Regions from separate parts of the Homo sapiens genome. Here all the other regions are linked to region 3. Evidence: fine-mapped expression QTL. A gene starts in region 3. Each other region holds a variant in brackets. All regions are shown on one strand. Distances are from middle to middle. Region 1 has its middle 27 kb from the start of ERH. Region 2 has its middle 9.4 kb from the start of PLEKHD1. Region 3 holds the start of SLC39A9 (solute carrier family 39 member 9).

The links. PIP is the estimated chance that this variant, and not a neighbour inherited with it, causes the effect.
Region 1: its variant is fine-mapped to the expression of SLC39A9 in whole blood (INTERVAL, PIP above 0.99).
Region 2: its variant is fine-mapped to the expression of SLC39A9 in monocytes after R848 (Quach 2016, PIP 0.95).

What each region holds. Positions count from the first base shown.
Region 1 is chr14:69,367,541-69,375,722 of GRCh38, forward strand. It overlaps a transcript of GALNT16 not described here. Among named protein-coding and RNA genes, the nearest start is that of ERH, 27 kb to the right of the region's middle. The variant C/T (reference allele first, on the strand shown) is at 4,527.
Region 2 is chr14:69,471,279-69,479,460 of GRCh38, forward strand. It overlaps a transcript of PLEKHD1 not described here. Among named protein-coding and RNA genes, the nearest start is that of PLEKHD1, 9.4 kb to the right of the region's middle. The variant G/A (reference allele first, on the strand shown) is at 4,351.
Region 3 is chr14:69,394,405-69,402,586 of GRCh38, forward strand. SLC39A9 (solute carrier family 39 member 9) reads left to right here and starts at 4,288. Exons shown (of 7, transcript NM_018375.5): 1 at 4,288-5,061. The coding sequence starts at 4,966. It overlaps ERH (ERH mRNA splicing and mitosis factor), which reads right to left and starts at 3,895. Exons shown (of 4, transcript NM_004450.3): 1 at 3,827-3,895; 2 at 421-508. The coding sequence starts at 3,829. RefSeq lists enhancers at 2,895-3,403, 3,404-3,911, 4,113-5,312, 4,241-4,580 and a silencer at 3,904-4,144.

The DNA of each region.
Region 1 (8,182 bases), 27 kb before region 3:
TGTTGTTTATAAGCCACCCAGTCTATGGTACTTCGTTGTAACAGCATGAACAAACTAAGAGTGATAGAGAGCTTCAAGAATTCCAAGCAGGGGCTGTGCAAGGCAAAAAAAAAAAAAAAGAAAAAGAAAAAAGAAAAAGAATTCCATACAGGAAGGCCAGGCATGGCAGCTCACACTTATAATCCTAGCGCTTTGGGAAGTGGAGATGGGGCAGGGTGGGGGGGAACTGCTTGAGGCCAGGAGCTTCAGACCAATTTGGGCAACATAGGGAGACCCTGTTTCTACCAAATAAAAAATTAAATATTAGCCAGGCATGGTGCTGCACAGCTTTAGTCCTAGCTACTTGGGAGGCTGAGGTGCGAGGATCGCTTGAGCCCAGGAGTTCAAGGCTACAGTGACATGATTGTGCCACTGCACTCCATCCTGGGCAACAGAACGGGATCCAATCTCTAAATAAAGAAAAAAAGAAGAAAAAGAAAAGAGAAAGAATGGCAAGAAAGTGATATAATCAGATTTTCATTATGAAAAACGTCCTCTTCCATAGCACAGAAGAGGACAGACTATTAGAGGGTAGTGATGGATGTCTATTCTTTATCAGCCAAAACCTCCTGCCTCCTTTTTCTGGGAAAAGCTCTTTCCCTTGTGGGTTGAATAGAAACTTCCATTTTATTATAGACTCTATTAGCTACCTATTGCCGTGTAAAAAATTACCCCACAATTTAGTGGCTGGAAACAATTAACATTTATTATCTCACAGTTTCCATGGGTCAGGAATCCAGGAGTGGCTTAGCTGAGGGTTCTGGCTCAGAGACTCTCATGAGGTTGCAATCAGTGTGTCAAGCCAGGGCTGCAGTCATCTCAAGGCTCAAGCAGGGCTAGAGAATCTGCTTCCAAGCTCACTTCCATGGGCTGTCTCCATAGGGCTGTCTCACAACATGGCAGCTGGCTACCCTTGGAACCAACAGTCTCAGAGAGACTGAGAGAGCACACCTAAGATGGAAGCCACAGTCCTTCTGTAACTTCATACTGGTAGTGAGATCTCATTACTTCTGCTGTATGCTATTTTAGGAGAGTCATTCATAAGTTCAGCCTTCCCCTAAGAGGAGGGTTTACACGAGGGCTTGACTACCAGGAGGCAGGAATCACTGGGGGCCACCTCAGAGGCTGCCCACCACACAGATCCCACCATGTCCTCAGGGCAGGTAACCCAAGCTGGGCCAGTCCAGTCAGAACATTTCTTGGGATCTTTTAACTCGACTAGAAAGAAGGAATCTTTCTAAAGTGGTAAAACTCGAAGACAATGGGCATCCCTGTGGGAAAGAGCTGGCCTGTGATGGGAATGACACTAACACTTCAAGGGAAGCAGGGACCAGAAATAGCAGGCATTCCTGTTGCCCATCAGCTTCTGGTTCCACTTGATCCTAAGACTCACCTGTGCTCTGGCCATTCCTGTAATTTGTTTACACAACTCAATAAACTATACCCCTCACTCTTGTTGCCTGAGCTAAGTCAGGATGGGTTTCTGTCATTTGTAACGAGAGAATGATGACTGACTAACTGATCGAGAGTCACCCTGAGGTAGGAAGATCAATTAGGAAACTATTGCAGATGATAACTGATGAGGGCCTGATGAAGGCACTGGGGTTCTGATTAGGGCCCAAACAGGAGGACACATAGGAATGGAAGGAGGGATCATGGCAGACGGTCTTATTCCATTATATCCCCAGATGTTAACATTGTGTCTGGCACATAGTAAGTGCTAAGTAAATATTTGTGGAAATGAATAATTAAATAAATGAATAGAGGCAGAGAGACAAAGATAAAAGCAAGACTTGCTGACCAACTGGATGTGGAAAGTGAGGAAGAAAGAAATGAAAGCTTGTACCCAGACCTCAGCCGTGAAAGGTTGGCTGGCTAGCAACACCATTCAAGACAGAGCTGCTTTGGATGGGGTCCATGAGGAGGGGTGGTGAGCTCCACTGTGAACCACTGGCATGTGTCTTCAAGGCAAGCGGCTGATCTTAGGGAACGGAGTGGTTAACTTTTCTTCAATAGGAACATCCATGTTGTTGGCCTCCCCAGCTCTGTCCACGTTACCTACAGAGTGACGCAACCACGTGCACTCAAAACTAGAGAAAGACCTACTTTTACAAGTAGGCAATGAACACAACCACCTCAGGGACTAGTGGCTCCTGATTAGGAACAGTCTAAAGTTAGCATGACAAAATCAGCTGTCAACTGTCAGCTTAATGAGTCTTCCGACTCCCTGAAGGAGCTCTCTAAGGTCCCCCTGAGGACAGCTTACTTCCCAACCAGACTGGGGAAGATTGTAGAGATGAGTGGAGAGGCCTGAAATTGGGAATTCAGAAAACACATTTGCTCTTCTCCTTTGGGGATGCCCACACTGAGTGAGGCTGGGCACATTTGGCAGCTTTTTATAAACTGGCATTGGAAAGCTGTCAGAGGTGGGAAATGCCCCCTTTTCTATTGGCATTCTTGTGTCCAGTCAGAAGCAGTCTAGGGAGGTGGTTAAGCAAGGGTTGTTAAATGTCACCAGAATTTAGTTTGAAGTGCTGACTCTGTTTACATCCCTGGGCGAGCTCATTAGCATGTGTCAGAAATGCAGCTTCAGTGGCCCCAAACATTCCCCACTGCTCCCAGGCTTACAGAACACCAGCCTGACATAGCAGAGCTACCTCGGGCTTCCTTGCAAGCTCCGCCTGCCAAGCAACCAGACAAGTCGTCCTCAACAAAGGCTTCTTTTGTGGCCCAAATATGCCCTGCTTTGATAATGCATCATTCCCTCTTCTGCTCAGGCTGAGGGGAGAGGGTGGGGCAGCGTATCCAGGTGGAGTGGAGCAGTGAATGTGGTCTGTGAATGGTAAAGCCCTATGGAGGAGTAAGGATCATGGATGCATTGTCAGTCTTAGAAGTGTTCCTACTGGCTTTAGCACTACCGCTATGCAGTAGCCAAGATAGGATATAACTTTGTGATCGAATCTTTTATTTTTTTTTAACTTTTCATTATGGAAAGTTTCAAGCATATGAAAAAGAAGAGGTGAAACCCACCACCCAGGTTATCAATTTATGGCTAATCTTGTTTCATCTACACCCTTCCACTGGATTATTTGAAGCACATCTCATATATGTCATTTTATCTGTAAATATTTCAGTATACACTCTAAAAGAGAATTTGAAAAAATAACCACAATGGCATTATCAAATCTAAAAATCACAATAATTCCTTAATACTGCTGGAATCTTATACTGATGGGCAAAGGAGCCTCCTGGTGCTATCTTCTCCTTTGCCCTCCATCTCCAACAGGAACAGTGCGCCAAGTGCAAATCAATGCAAAAGGCAAGATCCCACCTATGCTAGGGTCATTACTGCTTTGTGAGCAGCTTTAGCAATTTAAAAATATTTCTTGAAATAGCTTGATACAATTTTAAAAACCAAATAAACAGTCCTTATGTTTTTATCAGATCTTTTGGCCCTTACCAAAGGGCCAAGGACAGCCTATTAGAGAATCAAAGTGCTACAAGGATAGCCTATTAGAGAATCAAGAAGTGCCGGAAGTTGAACAAGATTCCTTGCCTGAGCAGCTGGTGACTGGACTGCCCTGGGGTCCTTGGCCTCCACTAAGATACAGGGGTAACTTCACGGTAACATGAATGTTTTTAGACTTCTTTCTGGTAGTATTGTATTAATAGTAATTTTTTTATTTTTTTTTGAGATGGAGTCTCACTCTGTCGCCAGGCTGGAAGTGCAGTGGTGCGATCTCAGCTCACTGCAACCTCCCACTCCCTGGTTCAAGCGATTCTCCTGCCTCAGCTTCCCGAGTAGCTGGGATTACAGGCACGCACCACCACGCCCAGCTTATTTTTGTATTTTTTTTTAGTAGAGACAGGGTTTCACCATGTCAGCCAGGATGGTCTCGGTCTCCTGACCTCGTGATCCACCCGCCTTGGCCTCCCAAAGTGCTGGGATTACAGGCGTTAGCCACCACACCCGGCCTAACAGCAATATTAAATATTGCTGGGGAATACATTTGATTAAGTATAACGTACATATAGAAAGTGTGCAAAACTCTTAAGAGTTTGTTTTGTAATAATAGTTATCATTGGCCAGGCGTGGTGGCTCACGCCTGTAATCCCAGAACTTTGGGAGGCTGAGGTGGGTGGATCATGAGGTCAGGAGTTGGAGACCAGCCTGGCCAATATGGTGAAACCCCATCTCTACTAAAAATACAAAAATTAACCGGGCGTGGTGGCGTGAGCTTGTAATCCCAGCTACTTGGGAGGCTGAGGCAGAAGAATTGCTTGAAGCCGGGAGGTGGAGGTTGCAGTGAGCCGAGATCGTGCCACTGCACTCCAGCCTGGGCGACAGAGCAAGACTGTCTCAAAAAAAATAAAAAAATAAATAATAAATAATAATAAGTTATCATTCACCTGGCTCTACACTTACCCGAGGATTAAGTTAAACAGTGAAAATGAGGTGGAAACAGCATAACTGTTACTAGGACAGC[C/T]GGTCACATAAATGTGGAGTTACCTTTATGGATGAGCAGGATGAGTAGGGCATCCCTGTGCAGGAGTGGCCTGCAGTGAGGAGTTAGAGCCCAAGTAGGAAGAGGAGCTTGTCTAGGCAGAAGGTGGCTGGGGGTTGGAGTGCCTATCAAAGCTGGTGATGGGCAGGGGGAGGTGAGGCGGTTGTCCTTGTTGGGAAGCCTGAGTGATCCATCCACAGGCTCTTGGGGCAACATACTCCGTGTTGGCTGCAAACACTGACTCACTGATACGGGGTCTGTTGACATAGAATCTTATACAAACTGTGGAATCCCAATATCTACACTGGTCTGTTGCAGGAATGCTGGGTAGTATTCAGAGATGCTCACCATTCACACATAGGTCACAAGGCTCAAATACATAATTGTCTTAGTAGTGATCATTAGCCTTTTTTTTTTTTTTTTTTTTTTGAAATGGAGTCTTGCTCTGTTGCCCAGGCTGGAGTGCAGTGATGCGATCTCGGCTCACTGCAACCTCCACCTCCCAGGTTCAAGAGATTCTTCTGCCTCAGCCTCCCGAGTAGCTGGGATTACAGGCGCATGCCACCATGCCTGGGATCTTCAGCCTTTTCTAAGAAGGAAAGAAGTAATTTCTCAATCCAAGTACCTGAAAAGATTCAGAGGGCCTGGCTTAAGAGAAGCAAGGGTATCAAGGATACGTTGAGGTATCAAGCAGGACTTTGATCTCTAATCAACTTCATTCTAATAAGCATTTGTCCTCAACAGCCTTTCAGTACCTGCACCTTCAAATCTTTTCCTAACACTCTGCAAGAAACATGAGGTTTCCTGCCCTCTGTCATTATACCTGCAACCTCCCATTGGGATTTGCAAAATAATTGGGATGAGCATTGTGGTAATCCTTCCTGGAGTTGCATTGTAGGTGGAAGTTGGTGACCATACTTCTAACAGGTCTCTGAGCTCACTGACAGTGTCAAGGACAAAGTGATCTCTAGAATGGCCAGGGGCATTGCAGGGCAAGGACCCAGAACTGTGGGATACTCTTCAAACTACTCACCATGGAACAGACACTAAAAGACTCAACTATACTCTTTTTCTCCAAGGCTAGAGAGGCAATATAGTTGGCCAAGCCCAAGGGTCCTGTAACAGAGTAGGTACTCCACAACAAATGCTTGTAGGTAAAGGTGGGAGTTAGTATTACCATGACAACTCCTCCAACCCTGGGCTTCCAAGAAAGAAACCATGATCTATCCCATTTCTCTTAAATTACAGCCCACACACTTTAACTTCAAACATCTATTGACAAGAATGCAGGGCCTGTCTCAGTTAAGCGATGTCATCAGTTCTCATTAGCCTCTTCATAGTCTCTTGAAAAGCATAAAGAAAATTACCTCTGGCACAGAAAAGGCTTTTAAACCAACCTTTTCACAGTATGTCTCAAACTGAACATCCACTTAAGTGTATAATTACAAAAAAGAAAGGGTATGCTAGATATGTTGACACAGGATCTCTAAATGTAGCTGAAGGAGTTACTATTATCTTCAAAGGCAAAACATCTTTCTTAGGCTTACAAGACAAACTATGTAGTGGAGTAGACAGGAAAGCAAATCACTAAGAGATTATCTCCCTCTAAGTCTTCTTTCTCTTTTTCTTTTCTTTTTTCTTTCTCTTCTTTTTCTTTCTCTTTGTTCTTTTCTTTCTCTCTCTCTTTCTCTCTTTCCTTTTTCTTTTTTGACACAGGGTCTCAATCTGTTGCCCAGGCTGGAGTGCAGTGGCACAATCTCGGCTTGGCTCACTGCAGCTGTGACCTCCTGGGCTTAAGCAATCCTCCCACCTCAGCCTCCTGCATAGCTGGGACTACAGGTATATGCCACCACACCCAGCTAATTTTTGCATTTTTTGTAGAGATGAGGTTTTGCCACGTTGCCCAGGCTGGTCTCAAATTCCTGAGCTCAAGTGATCTGCCCGCCTCAGCCTCCCAATGTGCTGGGATTACAGGCGTGAGCCACTGTGCCTGGCCCTCCTCTAAGGTATCACTGAAATTCCCCTCAGACCATCATCTAGCTTCTTTCAACTTCTCCATCTTTCAAGTGCCCTCATGATTTCAGCCTCTCAGCCCCTCCTATCTCCTAGCCCATCATTCACTTGCCTTAATGTCTAGCCTAGAGTGTGAGTAGTCTTTCAGTGTTATGCTTGTTACTTACTTATGATTCCTTGTCCACTTAACACTCCCCCAGCACTCCCTCCCATAAAAATGTTATACTGCTTCATGTACTAAAGTTTATGCTCTTCTCTATCCCTACTGCCTAAGATCATTCTTGTTCATCTTTGTTGCCATTTATGTGCCTTGTTCTGTTTAGTCAGATTCTATCACTATTTACTGTTCACCTACTATATACCAGGCATTTTCCTATGCTACCTCATGAAAAGCAGTATGTGTAGGATGTCTTGCTAGTCAAAGTGTGGTTACCTGGAAGTTTGTTAAAATTGTAGACTGTGAGTCCACCACAGACCAACCAAATAAAAATCTGCTCAAGATACTCAGGTGTGCAACATTTTGAACAGTAGTGGTATATTGCACATTGGAATATCCCGAGGTTTTTAATTCATGTATTTTGAAGTTCTGTCACTGAGTGATGTGTTAGTCTATTTTCTGTTGCTGTAACAAAATACTTACTGGGTAATTTATAAACAATAGGAACTTATTTGGCTCACAGTTCTGGAGCCTGGAAGTCCAAGAGCATGGCACTGGCACCTTGCAAGGGCCTTCATGTCATCCCATGGTGGAAGGCAGAAAGCAAGAAAGAGAGCAAGAAAGAGAGCAGGGGGACTGAACTCACTTTTATGACAAGACCACTCATGATAACTAACTCACTCCTGCGGAAATGACATTAATTTATTCATAAGGCTCATACCCTCATGACCCAATCAACTCTTATTAGGCCTTACTTCCAACACTGTTGAATTTGGGATTAAGTTTCCAACACATAAACTTTGGGAGACACATGCAAACGACAGCAGGTGCACGTATTTTTAGGATTGTTATGTCTCTTGATGAAGCTACACTTTTATCATTACAAAGCATCCCCCTTCATCCCTGGTAATATTCCTTGTTATGAAGTCTCCTTGCCTTATATTAAGTATGGCCACTCCTGCTTCTAATGCTTAGTGTTTGCATGACATACTTTCCGCATCCTTTTCACTTTTATTGTATCTGTGTCTTAACATGTAAAGTGGATTTCTTATAGACCACATATAGTGGTGTCTTGCTTCATGATCCAGTCTGACAATCCGAGTCTTTTCATTGAAATGTTTAGACCATTTACATTTAATGAAATTATTAATGACTGGGTCTAAATTTACCATATTGCTGTTTGTTATCTATTTTCCCACCTATTCTTTGTTCTGGGGTCCTGGCACACAGTAAAACAAAAGCCTCCACAACAAAAGCCTGTAGATGAAGGTGGGAGTTAACATTACCATGGCAACTCCTCCAACCGCAGGTTTCCACATTATCCTGATATCCTATCTTCTTTTGGATTCTTTTTTTTTAAAGTGATTTCTCTAGGGTTTACAAATAGAGATCTTTATTTTATTGTGAGACAAGTTCTCACTCTGTTACCCATGCTGGAGTGCAATCATAGCTCACTGAAGCCGTGAAC
Region 2 (8,182 bases), 77 kb after region 3:
AATTTTTATTTTTGTAGAGATGGGGTCTCCCTATGTCGCCTAGGCTGATCTCAAACTCCTGGGCTCAAGGGATCCTCCCGTCTTGACCTCCCAAAGAGCTGGGATTACAGACATGAGCCACCACGCCTGGCTCATCCCCACTTTCAAATGTGGAAACCAAGGCACATCTCTGAAGCTGGAGCTCAGGCATTCTGGCTCCTGAGTCCACACTCTTAACTACACTGTAGAGGTCACAAGGTCTGAGAGAAACTGGATCAAACCAAGAGAGAGTAGCTCTGGAGTCTAGACCTGGTTCAAGGACAAACTGTACTACCTTGAATAGGGATGGTTTTCTCATTCAGGACTGGGCATCGCAGGGGCTGGCCAGCATCCAGGACCTCGGAGTCCCAGTCATTCAGAATCATGCTGCCTCAGGATGTCTCAAGTCCAGGGCTCCCCACACTTTCCCATGCCAAAGGTGCCTAACAGCAGAAGAGAATGAACCACCACCCATGGTAGTCTAGTATTTGGCCGAGAGATGTCAACCTATACACAGGAAGCTCCTTGACATCTCACTTTTGCTGACTTTGTCTTCTCCTTCATAATCCACATTTATTTTTACCATAGATATAATGTTTAAAATTAATTACCAGATAAACTCTTAGGCTTCCAGAGCTTAAGGTTCCTTCCAAACCTTCTGGTGAAACGGCTGCTTCACGGAAATGGTGAGAAAATGTTTCACACGTTTTTACACAGTCACACACAAGTGTGTATCTACTTCTCAATGGTCCCAGCCACACACTCAACGACCCGTGCTGAGTCAGAACCAAACACCACACACCGTCACAACAATCACCACACACAGCGATGGTCACATGCCCACTCGGTCACTCACCCACAACCAGAGAGAGAATCACACACAGGCGGCACACCCAACACCACAGCCCTTCAAGCAGCAACCCAGGGAATCAAACACTCACCTGCCTACACATGTATGTATGTCTGTTTTTAATTCTTCTAAGCTAGAGCTGCATCCTCCCGTATACTGTTTATAATGTAAGAAGTAAGCAACCTTGAGTCTTTGTCCTTGTGTCTGGAATGCTCTTCCCCCTCCTTCAACTCTGGATGCAATGTCTCCTTCCATTAGGCTTACCGGGACCGCGTGAGTTAAAACTGTAACCTGTCCCCACCCCCATGTTCTGTATGCTGCTCTATTTCTTTTTCGGTAACGTTAATCACCGTGTCATGTGCTTTATAAAGCAGCCATGCAACACAGAGCAATGTTTCGGTCAATGATGGACCACATTTATAACCATGGTCCTCTAAGATTATAATACTGTATTTTTACTCCACCTTTTTCTGTGGTTAGACACACAAATACTTACCATTGCATTGCAACTGGCTACAGTGTTCAGTACAGTAATGTGCTGCACAGGTTTGTAGCCTAGGAGCAATAGGCTGTACCATACAGCCTAGGTGTGTGGTAGGCTATGCCATCTAGGTTTGTGTAAGTGCACTCTATGGCAGGGGTCCCCAACCCCGGGCCACAGACCAGTACTGGTCCTTGGCCTATTAGGAACCGGGCCACACAGCAGGAGGTGAGCGGCAGGTGAAGAAGCATTACCACCTGAGTTCTGCCTCCAGTCAGATCAGCGGCAGCATTCGATTCTCATAGGAGCATGAACCCTACTGTGAACTGCACACACAGGGATCTAGGTTGCATGCTCCTTATGAGAATCTAATGCCTGATGATCCATCACCGTCTCCCATCATCCCCAGATGGGACCGTTTAGTTGCAGGAAAACAAGTTCAGGGCTCCCACTGATTCTACATTATGGTGAGTTGTATAATTATTTCATTATATATTACAATGTAATAATAGAAATAAAGTGCACCATAAATGTATTGCACTTAAATCATCCTGAAACCATCTCCCCCCAAACTCCAGCGCATGAAAAAATTGTCTTGCATGAAACTGGTTCCTGGTGCCAAAAAAGTTGGGGACCACTGCTCTACAGTGTCCAAACAAGGACAAAATTGCCTAAGGACATGTTTCTCAGAATGTGTCCCTACCCCACCCTCCCACCAACCCTCCCTCTCCCCGCCCCAGCTGCAGCCCTGATCCCTGGCAGGACCAGCTGCTGACCCTGCGTGTGTGTAGCTCCACCTCTGCCTCACTTGGTGAGGGCTGCTTGGGAGTTAGCAGTATCAGAAAGGGCATGGAACTGAGTGTACAGGTGGGAAATTAACTGGGTTCAGGTTACTAACTCAGTGCTGACCAGCCACAGCAAGGTGCTGTATGACTAATTTAGGAATCAGAAAACCCGGATCCTATTACTGGCTCAGCCACTGATTTTTGTTACCATGTTAGCCACTGCCCAATTTTGTAATTTTTGGACAGGAATGTGAGTAAAAGTTTGTGTCCCACTCTGGTTGCACAAGAATTGAGGAATCCCGACAAATTCAGGAGCCATCAGAGGAGGGAGCCCAGTGGAGAAGGGGATCGAGGGGGAGATTGGGGTCTTCGAGGAAGCTAGAAGGACCTGGATTGCTTGCTTATGTCTGGAATGCTCTTGAGGGCAGAATTTGATAACCATCTTCAGATACTTCAACTACTGTCTCACCAAAGCTTCCACTCCTGAACTCTTGTTTCCTTCCAGCCCTCCAGCCCCCATCTGAATTGGGTGTTTGCTGGGCTAGGGGCAGAGGGTGGGAATGGCAGTAGAACCTATATTGTATTTTCATCTGTCCCTGCCTTCGCCCTGCTCAGTACTTGACAAACTGAGAGGAGCGGGGACTCCTCTTAGGAGCCTGCCAGGCACCCTCCCCACCCACTCATCAAGGAAATAAAGGAAAATCTGAGTTCCTTCAAGGGAAATTCCAGGCACCTAGCTAGCCCTGAGAAGTGGGCGAGCAATTTCATAAGCAAGAAGGCAAAAGCAGCCTAAAACAATAACCAAGGAAGTTAGAGTCTCAGAAAGTTTGGTTCCCTTTAGAAACTAAAGATAATATCTTACCATATTTTCCTGAGTTGCTTTCCAGAAACCCAGACCCCCACCAAATGATCTGCTGGCACATAGACCTCAGATAGGGGGAAATGAGGGCTGAACTCTGACCACCGGTTCGCGACCATGGGCCAGAGCTAACATTCTTTTCTGCTAACTCCGAATTTTTAGACAAAGTTTTGCCTCCTTTACCAAATGCAAATCAGAAAATCTTTGTGAATTCACCTGTGACCTGTGCCCCACCCGCCTTGAGATGTCCACCTTTTTAGGTCAAACCAACGTATAGCCTCCATTGTATTAATTTATGGCTTATGACTTTGCTTGTAACCTCTGCCTTTAGAAAGTCTTGCCTGTAAGCTGTTTGGGAGTTCTGGTCTGAAGTATAAACTGCCAGATTCTCCTTCCTTGGCACCCTGCAATAAATGCCTCACTTTCTCTGACTGCAATCCCCATGGCCGTGTTTGGCTTTGCTCCACCGGGTGTGCGGATGCAAATTCAGTTTAGTAACAAAGCCAGAAAAGAACATGCTATTGAACCTGGAAAAAAAATTCCAAGAAAGTATGATGCAGAGAGTTAGATGTCCTGGTCACCCCCTTCTTTTTTTAAAAAGAGATTGGAGATCTCGTTCTGTCATCCAGGCTGGAGTGTGGTGGTGTAATCACAGCTCAATGTGACCTCGAGTTCCTGGGCTCAGTTGATCCTCCCACCTCAGCCTCCCAACGCTCTGGGATTATAGGTATGAGCCACTGTTCCTGGTTAGCTCCCTTTTGATATATGAAGACAAGAGTGTTTTAAAGTAACTTGACCAAAGTCTTCTCATTGAGTAAAGATGGAGCTAACGCTGGTGACCAGCCTTTGGCTCCTAGTCCAGTGAACTGCTAATTCTGTTCTAGATGAGGGGCCAGCATCTTGGCTTTCCCTTAGATGTTCTGGGAGAGTGTGTGAGATCATAGCAATAAATGGCTATGGGCTTATTGGCCAGACTCAACATATCTGCCTCTTACCATTCCCAAAATATACTTGCTCTTAGAAGCCAAATTAATGTATATTCTAATTCATGCATCACCCACAAGAGGGAGCACTGAATACCTTCAGGGTGTCTGCTGAGTGTGCTGCCCACAGCGATGCCGGTGGGTACCAAGAGCTAATGTTAGTGCGGTAGAGTAGCTGGCAGGCTGACAGGGTGGCATGGTTTTCCAGCCACTCCCAAAAACGCTTCTGCATTGGCAACATTGGGTGTGAGTGATTACTGGGCAGTGAGAGGGTGGGGTGGGGTAGAAGCCTAGCAAGAGGCTGGCCCTGCTGATGAGAACACAGCCCATCTAGTCTAGTGCCAGGGAGCTCAAGTGGAGAGAGACTTTGAAGC[G/A]GGGGCCTGCTTATGTGGCTTCAGGCTGTGCTTCCCCGCAAGTGAGGCTTCCCACAGGGGCCCCGGGGGACCCTACTCCCCAGCGCACCCAGAGATGGGTCAACTAGTCTTCTGTGCCCACACACCCTTGTGGCTCTCCCTCCCCCATAGTCCTTTGGCCTACTGGCTTTGCACCTTCATGTGGTACCTTGTGCCCCACCTCAACTCTCTCCTGGGTTGCCCTGGGGGAAACCCAGTCCTGCGCAGGTAGAGGAGCCCAAGGCCCATCGTGGCCTTAGGAAATACAATCAAAATAGGAATATAATTCAACCAAGGGGAGGAGGAAGTGGCATCAGAAAAGGCATCACTGCCGGGTGGAATGGCTCACGCCTATAATCCCAGCGTTTTGGGGAGCCGAGGCAGGTGGATCACTTGAGGTCAGGAGTTCGAGACCAGCCTGGCCAACATGGCAAAATCCTGTCTCTACTAAAAATACAAAAATTAGCTGCATGTGGTGGTGTGTGCCTGTAATCCCAACTATTCCAGAGGCTGAGGCATGAGAATCCCCTGAACCCAGGAGGTGGAAGTTGCAGTGAGCCGAGATCGAGGCACTGCATTCCAGCCTGGGTGACAGAGTGAGACTCTGTCTCAAAAAAAAAAAAAAAAAAAAATGGCATCACTGCTGGGTGCAATGGATCATGCCTGTAATCCCAGCAACAGGAGGATCTTTCGAGCCCAGTAGTTCAACGCTAGCATGGCCAACATAGCAAGATCCCTAGGCCCTATTTCAAAAAAAAAAAAAAGTTTATTAGTTAGACGTTTTGGCATGTACCTGTAATCCCAGCTACTTGGGAGGCCGAGGAGAGAGGATTGCTTGAGCTCAGGAGTTCCAGGCTCAGTGAACTATGATGGCATCACTGCACTCTAGCCTGAGCAACCCTATCTCTTAAAATAATAATAATAATGTTTTAAAAGAAAACTAAAAGACATCACTAAAGAAGTCTTTGGGCTGAATGTTGAAGAGGGATTTTGGGAATAAGAGAAGCATTGTAGACTGAGGAGACAGCAAGTGAGAAGATGTGAAGAGCATGGGACCTTCCCAGGCTAGCAGAACCAGCGTGGCTGGAGCAGAGGGCCAGGGGAATGACTGTGAGTGAGCGCGGACAGGGGCCAGGGACTAGACTGTGAAGGGTATTTGTATTAGTCTGTTTTCACGCTGCTGATAAAGCCATACCTGAGACTGGGCAATTTACAAAAGAAAGAGGTTTATTGGACTTACAGTTCCATGCGGCTGGGGAAGCCTCACAATCATGGCGGAAGGTGAAAGGCATGTCTCATATGGCAGCAGACAAGAGAAGAGGGCTTGGGCGGGGAAACTCCCCTTTATTTTATTTATTTATTTATTTATTTATTTATTTAGAGACAATGTCTCCCTCTGGTGTCACCCAGGCTGGAGTGCAGTGGCACAGTCTCAGCTCACTGCAACCTCTGCCTCCCAGGTTCAAGCAATTCTCCCGCCTCAGCCTCCTAAGTAGCTAGGATTACAGGCATGTGCCACCACAGCCTGGCTAATTTTTGGATTTTTAGTAGAGATGGGGTTTCACCACATTGGTCAGGCTGGCCCTTTTTAAATCATCAGATCTGATGAGACTTATTCACTATCACGAGAACAGCACAGGAAAGACCCACCCCCATGATTCAACTACCTCCCACTGGCTTGCTCCTGCAACACATGGGAATTCAAGATGAGATTTGGGTGGAGACACAGCCAAACCATATCATTCTGCCCCTGGCCCCTCCCAAATCTCATGTACTCACATTTCAAAACCAAACATGCCTTCCCAACAGTCCCCCAGGTCTTAACTCATTTCCGCATTAACTCAGAAGTCCACAGTCCAAAATCTCATCTGAGACAAGGCAAGTCCCTTCCACTTATGAGCCTGTAAAATCAAAAGCAGGTTAGTTATTTCCTAGATACTATGGGGGTACAAGCATTGGGTAAATACAGCCATTCCAAATGGGAGAAATTGGCCAAAACAAAGTGGCTACAGGCCCCAGGCAAATCTGAAATCCAGCAGGGCAGTCAAATCTTAGAGCTCCAAAACGATCTCCTTTGACTCCATGTCTCGCATCCAGGTCACACTGATGCAAGAGGTAGGTTCCCATAGTCTTAGGCAGCTCCGCCCCTGTGGCTCTGCAGGGTACAGCCCCCCTCCTGGCTGCCTTCACTGGCTGGTGTTGAGTATCTGAAGCTTTTCCTGGTGCATGGTGCAAGCTGTCAGTGGATCTACCATTCTGGGGTCTGACCCTCTTCTCACAGCTCCACTAGGCAATGTCCCAGTAGGGACTCTATGTGGGGGTTCCTGCCCCACATTTCCCTTCTGCACTGCCCTAGCAGAAATTCTCCATGAGAACCCTGCCCCTGCAGCAAACTTCTGCCTGGGCATCCAGGTGTTTCCATACATCTGAAATGTAGGCAGAGGCTCCCAAACCTCAATTCTTGACTTCTCTGCACTTGCAGGCTCAACACCATGTGGAAGTTGCCAAGGCCTGAGGCTTGTGCCCTCTGAAGCCATGGCCCAAGCTCTACGTTGTCCCCTTTCAGCCCTGGCTGGAGTGGCTGGGATGCAGGGCACCAAGTCCCTAGGCTGCACACAGGAGACCCTGGGACCGGCCCATGAAACCACTTTTTCCTCCTAGGCCTCTGGGCTTGTGATGGGAGGGGCTGCTGTGAAGACCTCTGACATGCCCTGGAGACATTTTCCCCATTGTCTTGGGGATTAACATTTGGCTCCTCATTACTTATGCAAATCTCCATAGCTGGCTTGGATTTTCTTTTCTATCACATTATCAGGCTGCAAATTTTCTGAACTTTCATGTTCTGCTTCCTTTACAGAACTGAATGTCTTTAACAGCACCCAAGTCACCTCTTGAATGCTTTGCTACTTAGAGATTTCTTCCACCAGATACCCTAAATCTTCTCTCTCAAGTTCAAAGTTCCACAAATCTCTAGGGCAGGGGCAAAATGCTACCAGTTTCTTTATTAAAATATAACAAGAGTCACCTTTGCTCCAGTTCCCAACAAGTTCCTCATCTCCATCTGAGACCACCTCAGCCTGGACCTTATTGTTCATATCACTATCAGCATTTTTGCCAAAGCCATTCAACAAATTTCTAGGAACTTCCAAACTTTCCCACATTTTCCTGTCTTCTTCTGAGCCCTCCAAACCGTTCCAACCTCTGTCTGTTACCCAGTTCCAAAGTCACTTCCACATTTTTGGGTAACTTTTCAGCAGCACCCTACTCTACTGGTACAAACTTTTGAGTGCGGACAGGGCCAGGGACTAGACTGTGAAGGGTGTTTGTATTAGCCTGGTTTTACGTCGCTGATAAAGACATACCTGAGACTGGGCAATTTACAAAAGAAAGAGGTTTATTGGACTTACAGTTCCATGTGGCTGGGGAGACCTCACAATCATGGTAGAAGGTGAAAGGCATGTCTCACGTGGTGACAGATGAGAGAAGAGAGCTCGTGCAGGGAAACTCCCCTTTTTAAAACCATCAGATCTGGTGAGACTTATTCACTATCATGAGAACAGCACTGGAAAGACCTTCCTCCATGATTCAACTACCTCCCACTAGTACTCTCCCACAACACATGGGAATTCAATATAATATTTGGGTGGGGACACAGCCAAACCGTATCAGTGTTAGAGCCAAAGTCAGGAGGTAGGAGCTGGGGTCAAGGGAATGGGACCCAGCAGAGGGCTTTACACAAGAGACTTACAGGATCAGCTTGGGGCCTTGAAAAGAGCACGCATGATGGTGGGGAGCTGGATTATTTAGGGAGTCA
Region 3 (8,182 bases):
GCCAACATGGTGAAACCCCATCTCTACTAAATACACAAAAAATTATCTGGGTGTGGTGGCCCATGCCTGTAGTCCCAGCTACTTGGGAGGCTGAGGCACAAGAGAATCACTTGAACCTGGGGGGCGGAGGTTGCGTAAGCCGAGATCGCATTACTGCACTCCAGTCTGGGTGATAGAGCGAGACTCTGTCTCAAATAATACATAAATAAACAAACAAATAAATAAAATGTTCAATAATTATGGTCCATCCTAAATATCTGCTTTCCCTCCTAAAATTAGCAATTCAATAAATTTGGAGGGTTGGAAGTGATAAAGGCAGGGCCTGGGGTGGATGGACTATTAAAAAAAAAAAATTTGGAGGGGAAAAACCCAGTTCCTAAATGAGACATTTTTCTACCCCTTGATTAGTGTTAAACTCACCTTCCATGCATTCATTCACAGATTCGTAGTCAGCATAAGTTCTGCCTTCTGGCCTCTTGGTAGGCTGTACCAGCAAAATGGTGTGAGACTGCAGGGGAAAACATGATTTCAATATAAGTTTCTATTTGAGAAATTCATAGTATGATAAAAAAAAATCCCCATTTGTAATGCAATAATGATTGCTAGTTATTAAAATGTAATTAGAGAGGCCAGGCATGGCATCCCATGCCTATAATCCTCATCCTCTGGGAGGCTGAGAGGGGGAAAATCACTTGAGGCCAGAAGCTTGAGACCAACCTGGGCAACATAGCAAGACCCTGTCTCTACAAAAAAATAAAATTTGCCGGGTGCATGCCTGTAGTCCCAGCACTTTGGAAGTCTAAGGCAGGAGGATTCCTTGAGCCCAGGAGGCTGAGACTGCAGTGTGCCATGATCACACCATTGCATCGGAGAGTGAGGCCCTATCTCTTAAAAGAAAAAAAAAAGTCATTAGGATACTTTTCCCACAAAAATATTGATGTCTTAGTCTAAGTATAGTATCTAGCTGGATTCACAACTCTGCTGTACGGTCTCCCTAAGTCTCCCAGTCCTACCGTACTTACTGCCTACAAGTAATCAGTATAAGCTACCTTGCCCTCCTTTTCCTTTTCTATCTTTTCTTCCCAACTAAATTATAAACCTGCTTAGGTTTTCTGTCTCCAGTGGTCACTTTCCATCTTTAATGCTCTTAAGTCACTAATAAAAACTCAGATGGGCTGATGAAAGGAAACAAAAGGGGAAATAGTATAATAATCACAAGCATGGTTTCAACTTAAGCTTTTTTTCCAACCTCAGCGTAAGAGCAAAGTCACATTTTATCCAGGGGTTAGACTTAACATTAAAGCAGTAGATAAATTAGCAATATAAACATATCATAAGAATTACCCTTAAAAATCCATTAAACTATTCACCTAGTAGATGACTTGCCTTACTGGGCTTTCTCATACCAAAATCACATATTAGAATCACACAGAAAGTTAGGTCATCACACTATGAGAAATGTGAAATAATGCCCATAGCAGACAGACTTGTCTTCCACTTCGTGCTCACTGGGAAACATGTTTTTGTTAGTGATCAGTCACTAACAAATCAATCTCAGTGTTTTCTCAACGTGGGCTCTATTACCTTTTGGGTTGACTGATTCTTTGTTACAAATGTCCCTTGGGGAGCAAAAAATCTCATCCAGCTGAGAATTCACTGGTCTGTTGAAAATATGACCCATCCAATTTTCTGCTACATGTGTAAGGTTAATTAAATGCAAGTATGATGCAACTCCACTGTAAATCCAGTCCCAAATCAAACTATTCACCTTTTTCCTTCTCTTCTGCTGTACTAGTATTTTTCAGCCAAAAACCAGAAAACAAAAATTTCCTAACAGGAACCCTAAACTGTTTTGGAATAACATAATTTTTTTTTGGAGACAGTTTTGTTCCTGTTGCCCAGGCTGGAGCGCAAAGGCGCGATCTCAGCTCACCGCAACCTCTGCTTTCCGGGTTCAAGCGAATCTTCTGCTTCAGCCTCCCAAGTAGCTGGGATTACAGGCATGCACCACCATGCTCGGCTAATTTTGTCTTTTTAGTAGAGATGGGGTTTCTCCATGTTGGTCAGACTGGTCTTGAACTCCCGACCTCAGGTGATCTGCCTGCCTCGGCCTCCCAAAGTGCTGGGATTACAGGCGTGAGCCACCGCGCCTGGACAAAATGATCAGAATTTTTAACCATCAAATTGGAACAGAAATAGCTGAAGCCCAGACTTTCTGAATAAACAATGGAAAAATAGTACATTTAACATGACATGCAAAACCAAGGGTTATCATACCCTTCTCTCCCCATCAAGAACTAAACCACTTTGACTAAAAGTTTCAGAGGGTTTGACATAAAAACGGAACTTGGTGACAAGAGACGAAGGATTAACTCTCACCTGTAATAACCTGAGCAGTCAAAGCCTTTGTTAAATCGATTTAAAAGCCACAGAAAGCATCATATTAGATTATTTGTTATACAGAAGTCTTTGTAAGCTAGCTACTCAAAAAGTTTCAACGAGTCATTTAAGAAAAAATAATTTTGTAGAAACCACGTGCATTCTTGCAACAGAGGTTGCCCTATACACTAGCTATCTCAACTGCTACTATAATAATTGTATTCCAATTCTAATGCAAATTAAAGGACTAATTTGAAAGGGTAAGAATGGAAAAAGCTATACAGCATGTTGCTTTTTATATCTAGTCTTAAAATGAACACCGGGCAAAGTTTACTATTTTCAGTACTTACTGCCCAAAGACAAGGATTAAAAATCACTAAGAACATAACATGATACATTTTAAAAACTGTGGTCAAGTGGTTATCATTTTTAAATGGCAATGCTTTCCTGCTCAAATTCTTTACAGATTATACCACCTCTCAAGCCAGTTTTGGTCACTTTCTTCGAATTGGAGCTTACTGATCATCCCGGTTGGGTTCTAATAGAGCTGGTCTCTGAGCTGAGCCTACTTTTCAGCCTCCAGCCCCAAGAGGATATAAATACAGATAAGTACAGGATCGAGGGCTGAGGGACGCGCCACACGCAATACCTAGAGGTCTCAAAAACAGGAAAAAAAAAAAAAAGGCAGAGCACAGGAAAACGAAAGCTGAAAAAACACTGCAAAGCAAATACGTCCTCTCCTGGCCCACATGCTGGGTATAGCTGGATCTGTCAGCTTCGAGAATAGTTAGACAACCCTGGCCCATTGTTCCTACAGCAGGCTAGAGCATTTGGAGGGAAAAATACCATATCCGGCAGGGCCCGGTGGCTCACGCCTGTAATCCCAGCACTTTGGGATGCCGAGGCGGGTGGATTGCTTGAGGTCAGGAGTTCGAGACCAGCCTGGCCAACATGGTGAAACGCCGTCTCTGCTAAAATAAAAAAATTAGCCGAGCGAGGTGGCGGGCGCCTGTAATCCCAGCTACTAGGGAGGCTGAGACAGGAGAATTGCTTCAACCCAGGAGGCAGAGGTTGCAGGGGTCTGAGATCCCGCCACTGCACTCCAGCCTGGGCGATAGAGTGAGACTCTCTATCTCAAAAAACAAAACACCTCCCCCACGTCTCCCTCTACCGAGTAACAATCGGGAGAGAGTTCATCCTCAGGCCCAAGGCACGCCGGACCCGAGCGAGCAGGCGGGCGCGCAACCGCAGGGCGGACCGGGGCTCCGAGGCCTAGAGTCAGGCCTGGCGTCCCTGCGGCGGGAAGAAGGGTCAATCCACCGACTAGAGTGGCGGGGAGCATCACGCGGCGCTGCATGGGGCTCGTGGGGAGGGGAAAACGTATGGGGCTGGGGTCGCTCTGGAGGCCGGGGACTCGGACTCGGGTAGCCGCGGAGGCCTTTCTCACCATCGCGCCAAACTCTCTTCGCTACAGCAGCTGCCGACACCGCCGCCGTTACACGAGCTTAACTACAACGCCGCTAACAGCCAATCCTCGCGAGAGGAGCCGCCGGAAGTCGTCGAAAGTGCAACGCAAAAGAGCCTTTTGGATCATAGAGGCACAGTCACTTCCGGCAGCTAGAGCAGCTACTGACTCTGTTTCAGCCATCTTCGATAAAGGCAAAAAGGTAAGGGAAAGTTTCCAAGCTTTAGGAAGAATTATTTTTTTTCAAGACGCTGTCTTCCGTACTTTCGTTATTAAACATACGGCTCAAGTGATCACCGGTATAGACAGTGACATCAGACATCTTTCATTAGCCCTACTCAAAAATGGCGGCAACGTAAGTATCCTGGGCCGGAGGTCGGTTGTAACCCGGAAGTGCCTTTGTAAAGGAGGGGGTGGTTAGACAATCCGGAAGTGGATGGAATGAAGAGATGCCACTTGGCGGCCATGGCAGCTGTAGTATCGGCGACTCCGGGTCAAGGCCCGGTCGAGTGCAGTACCATGGGCAGCACCGGGTATAGGGCAGAGACAGCTTTGTGTCAACTTTGCTGCTGAACCCCTAGGACCCATCGTTAGAGACCTGCAGGACTCCTTTCCTCATCCCAGGCTCGGAGGAGAGTTTGCTGGGACTGGTGGGCTGGTTTCCTGCTCTGGGGGGCGGATCACCTTCGGGGCCGCCTCTTGGAGACAGGGGCGCCTAGGGAACGAACAGGTTCGCTTGAGTCACTTACCCGCCGCCGCCTAAGACATTGTGCCACCCTCAATCCGACAATCGAAGAAATCGATCATTCGCACATTTTCCCCATTGACTTTTCCCATCTCTGTTAACCCACGAGAATCTAATGACTGGCATCTGAGAACCCAGAGCCTGGGACCTTAGATTGCTGTAAGCTTTCTCTGGTGCTAATATCAGCAAAAAGGGTCTGTTGCCGGGTACGTTCAAGAGGAAGGTGCCTCGTGAACACATCTGCTGGTGGGAAGGCCTAAAGAACTGGAAAGCCCACTCTCTTGGAACCACCACACCTGTTTAAAGAACCTAAGCACCATTTAAAGCCACTGGAAATTTGTTGTCTAGTGGTTGTGGGTGAATAAAGGAGGGCAGAATGGATGATTTCATCTCCATTAGCCTGCTGTCTCTGGCTATGTTGGTGGGATGTTACGTGGCCGGAATCATTCCCTTGGCTGTTAATTTCTCAGAGGTAAGAAATTCTCAATTTTCTGTCAGCTGTCAGGATGGCTGTGAGATAGTAGTTTTAGTTGCAAAGGGAAGCTGCTTCCCTAGTTAAATCTCAAAGCTGAAGGTCTCATTAAGAAAGACTATCTTTTTTAAAAGATACATGACACTTAATAATAGAAAGAAACCTCATATTCATTAGTGGAATTCTTAACCTGGGGTGGATAGATATTCCACGGAAGATCCTGGAGTATTCTGAATCCCCTAGAATTGCTTACAAAAATTTGAGGTTCTGTGCATTTACCTGGAGAGAGGCACCATAACATTTCTTTTGATTCTCAGAGGTTTCATGGAATCAAGATTCCAGATTGTTATCAAGAAAATAAATGGAGGGCTGGGCGCGGTGGCTCACGCCTGTAATCTCAGCACTTTGGGAGGCTGAGGTGGAAGGATCGCTTGGGCCCAGGAGTTCTAGACCAGCCTGGGCAACGTGGCGGGACTTTGTCCCTACAAATGAGGCTGAGGCAGGAGGATCGCTTGACCCCAAGTGGTTGAGGCTGCAGTGAGCCGTGTTTGGGCCACTGCACTCCAGCCTGGACAGCAGAGTGAGATCCTGTCTCCAAAAAAGAAAAAAAAAGAAATGGAGAATGTTATTTTTCTACATGAACTGAAATCAATATGATAACTTCCTTTTGAGAAAGTCAAACACACCTTTCTGAGGAAAGCTGTTTTGTTTTTTGGATGTCTGTACTAGAATGAATGTAAGAAAAAACTAAGATTGTTCTTAACTCACATTTCCTTTTAAAGAAGGGGAGCCTTGGAATTGATATTCTGAAGTTGTTTCAAATCTATTTGCTTAGCAATGAATTTTTGGTTAATACGTTTTGACATTTTCGTTAATTTGATTGGCACCTTGAACAGATGTTAAGCGAGGGTCCCGGGAAGAGGGATAGATGAAAGCACTGTTCAGTGAACATGCTGATAGGTCCTTTAGGTAGGCAAAAGGAATTCACGAAGTGCACAGCGTTCAAAGATTTAGGGGGGAAAAACTACTACATTCAAAGGGAACAAGATTTCATGAGTTTGTCCTAGAGTTCAGCAGTAAAATAGGCCCTAGTTTCAGTGCCATTCCTGAAAGTACTTTCAAAGGAGGCCTGAAGTAGAAAGGAAAGGTATAAATGAAATATTAAGTACACCTTGAAGAAACCTGAGGAAGAGGAGACATTACAGGTGAAAATAGCCTGTGGGTGGGAAAGAAGGTGGGACAAGGTGTTGTCAGTTTGAGGAAAAGTAAAGCCCATAGCCAGATGGAACAGATGCTTAAATTGTTGTTGTTCTTTTTCTGTTTCCTTTTTAATCTGTACCCCTCAGCATCTAATGATAGCATTTTAAAAAATTACGTGCATTACCTAACTTCACTTAAAAAACTCAAGCTGGGTGCGGTGGGGCGCGCCTGTAGTCCTAGCTACTCAAGAGGATAAGGTAGGAGGATTGCTTGAACCCAGGAGTTGGCCTGGGCAACATTGAGACTCTTTCTCTTAAAAAAAAAAAAAAAGAAAATAAAAATCAGTGACATATAGATGAGGAAACGGAGACTGGATAGGTTCATGAAGTTTGTTAGAATCAGAAGAGAGGTATTTTTTCAGTCTAGCTTTTCTGACTCAGACTAGTTCGTAGCCACTAAGCATTTCGGCAAAGGTACATGGTACATATACATGGTAGCCTGTGTGCCAAATCCAGCCTGCAGACTGTTCCATTAGCAGAAGTTTATTATTGTTGTTCTTTACCAGTATTTCCTAGAGGCAAAGGTTGGGTCGGGCTGAGTAGCAGCTGTTAGGCACAGTCCTCCTTGCCCTTGAAGCCTGTTTCACTTATTTGGGTTACCTGCCTGCCCAGTACTTTGTGAACCTGCTATGTTTCCTTTGACATAACCATATTTTCTTATAACTATATTAGAATTGAATTGACATTAGTAGGGCTGACATGTGTGAGATTTGGGTTGGTTTGTGTATTTTTAAACATATTGAAGTAACATTTATGAATAATCATAATTAATTCTGATAAGCAACCAGTAAAACTTTTTATTTCTATAAAATGCCTTTAACTTTACCAATTCCAGTATTTTTTCAAACTACCTTGAATGATTATTGCAATATGCGGATATATACTATTTCCTTTTTCACTAGAAGGAAATGTTTACAGGAGTGGTGTTAATAACTGGGTCATTAATACAGATAATTAGTATGTCATGTCATTTGTGGCTTTCTTAAATTGACGGTCAGATGGTCTTTTCCAGCTGTAGGTCTTAAAATGCTAAAATCAGCATTCATAATATCTGTTTATTATTAGAGTAGATGCAATGCATTTTGAGCTATTAGAATAAAAAATGAAAGTTATATATAACTTAAAGACATCCTAGAATTCAACTAGGATTTCTATCTCCTAGGAACTAAACATATTTTCTAGGTAAATTATGCCATTATTATGGACCAATGTTGTAATGAAACTAGTGAGATGGTAAATTTGTAAAAATAAATTTCATTCACGGGGGACTGGAAAGCACCATTTCTTTCCTTAGAAAATAATTCCCCAAACTCCTACACTGGATAAATGACTTGCCTTTTTAAGGAAGTCTGGCTTTCTTAGAGGCTAGTGTTACTGTTTTACAGTTCACTTTCGTTTACATCAGGGGTGTCCAATCTTTTGGCTTCCCTGGGCCACATCAGAAGAAGAATTATCTCAAGCCACACATAAAATACACTAACACTAAGATAGGTGATGAGCTAAAAAAAAAAAATGCAAAAAAAAACTCATAATGTTTTAAGAAAGTTTATGAATTTGTGTAAGGCTTCATTCAAAGTGCTCCTGGGTTGCATGCGGCCCACGAGCCATGAGTTGGACAAGCTTGATTTACATGAAAAGATATGCTTTTTATTCATGTTTTTAATCTTGCTGCTGCTTTCTCATTCAATACTTTTTCTAAAAATATCTCAGAACAGGAATAAAAGTCAGATGATCAATTATGGCAAGATTAGTATTTAAAAACGAGTTAAAATTAGGTAGTCTGAAATTGCAGTAGTGGTGGGGTCTACCTGCCAGATGTGCCCACCAAGAGGTTTATGTGACATTGATTTCTCTGTCAGTTT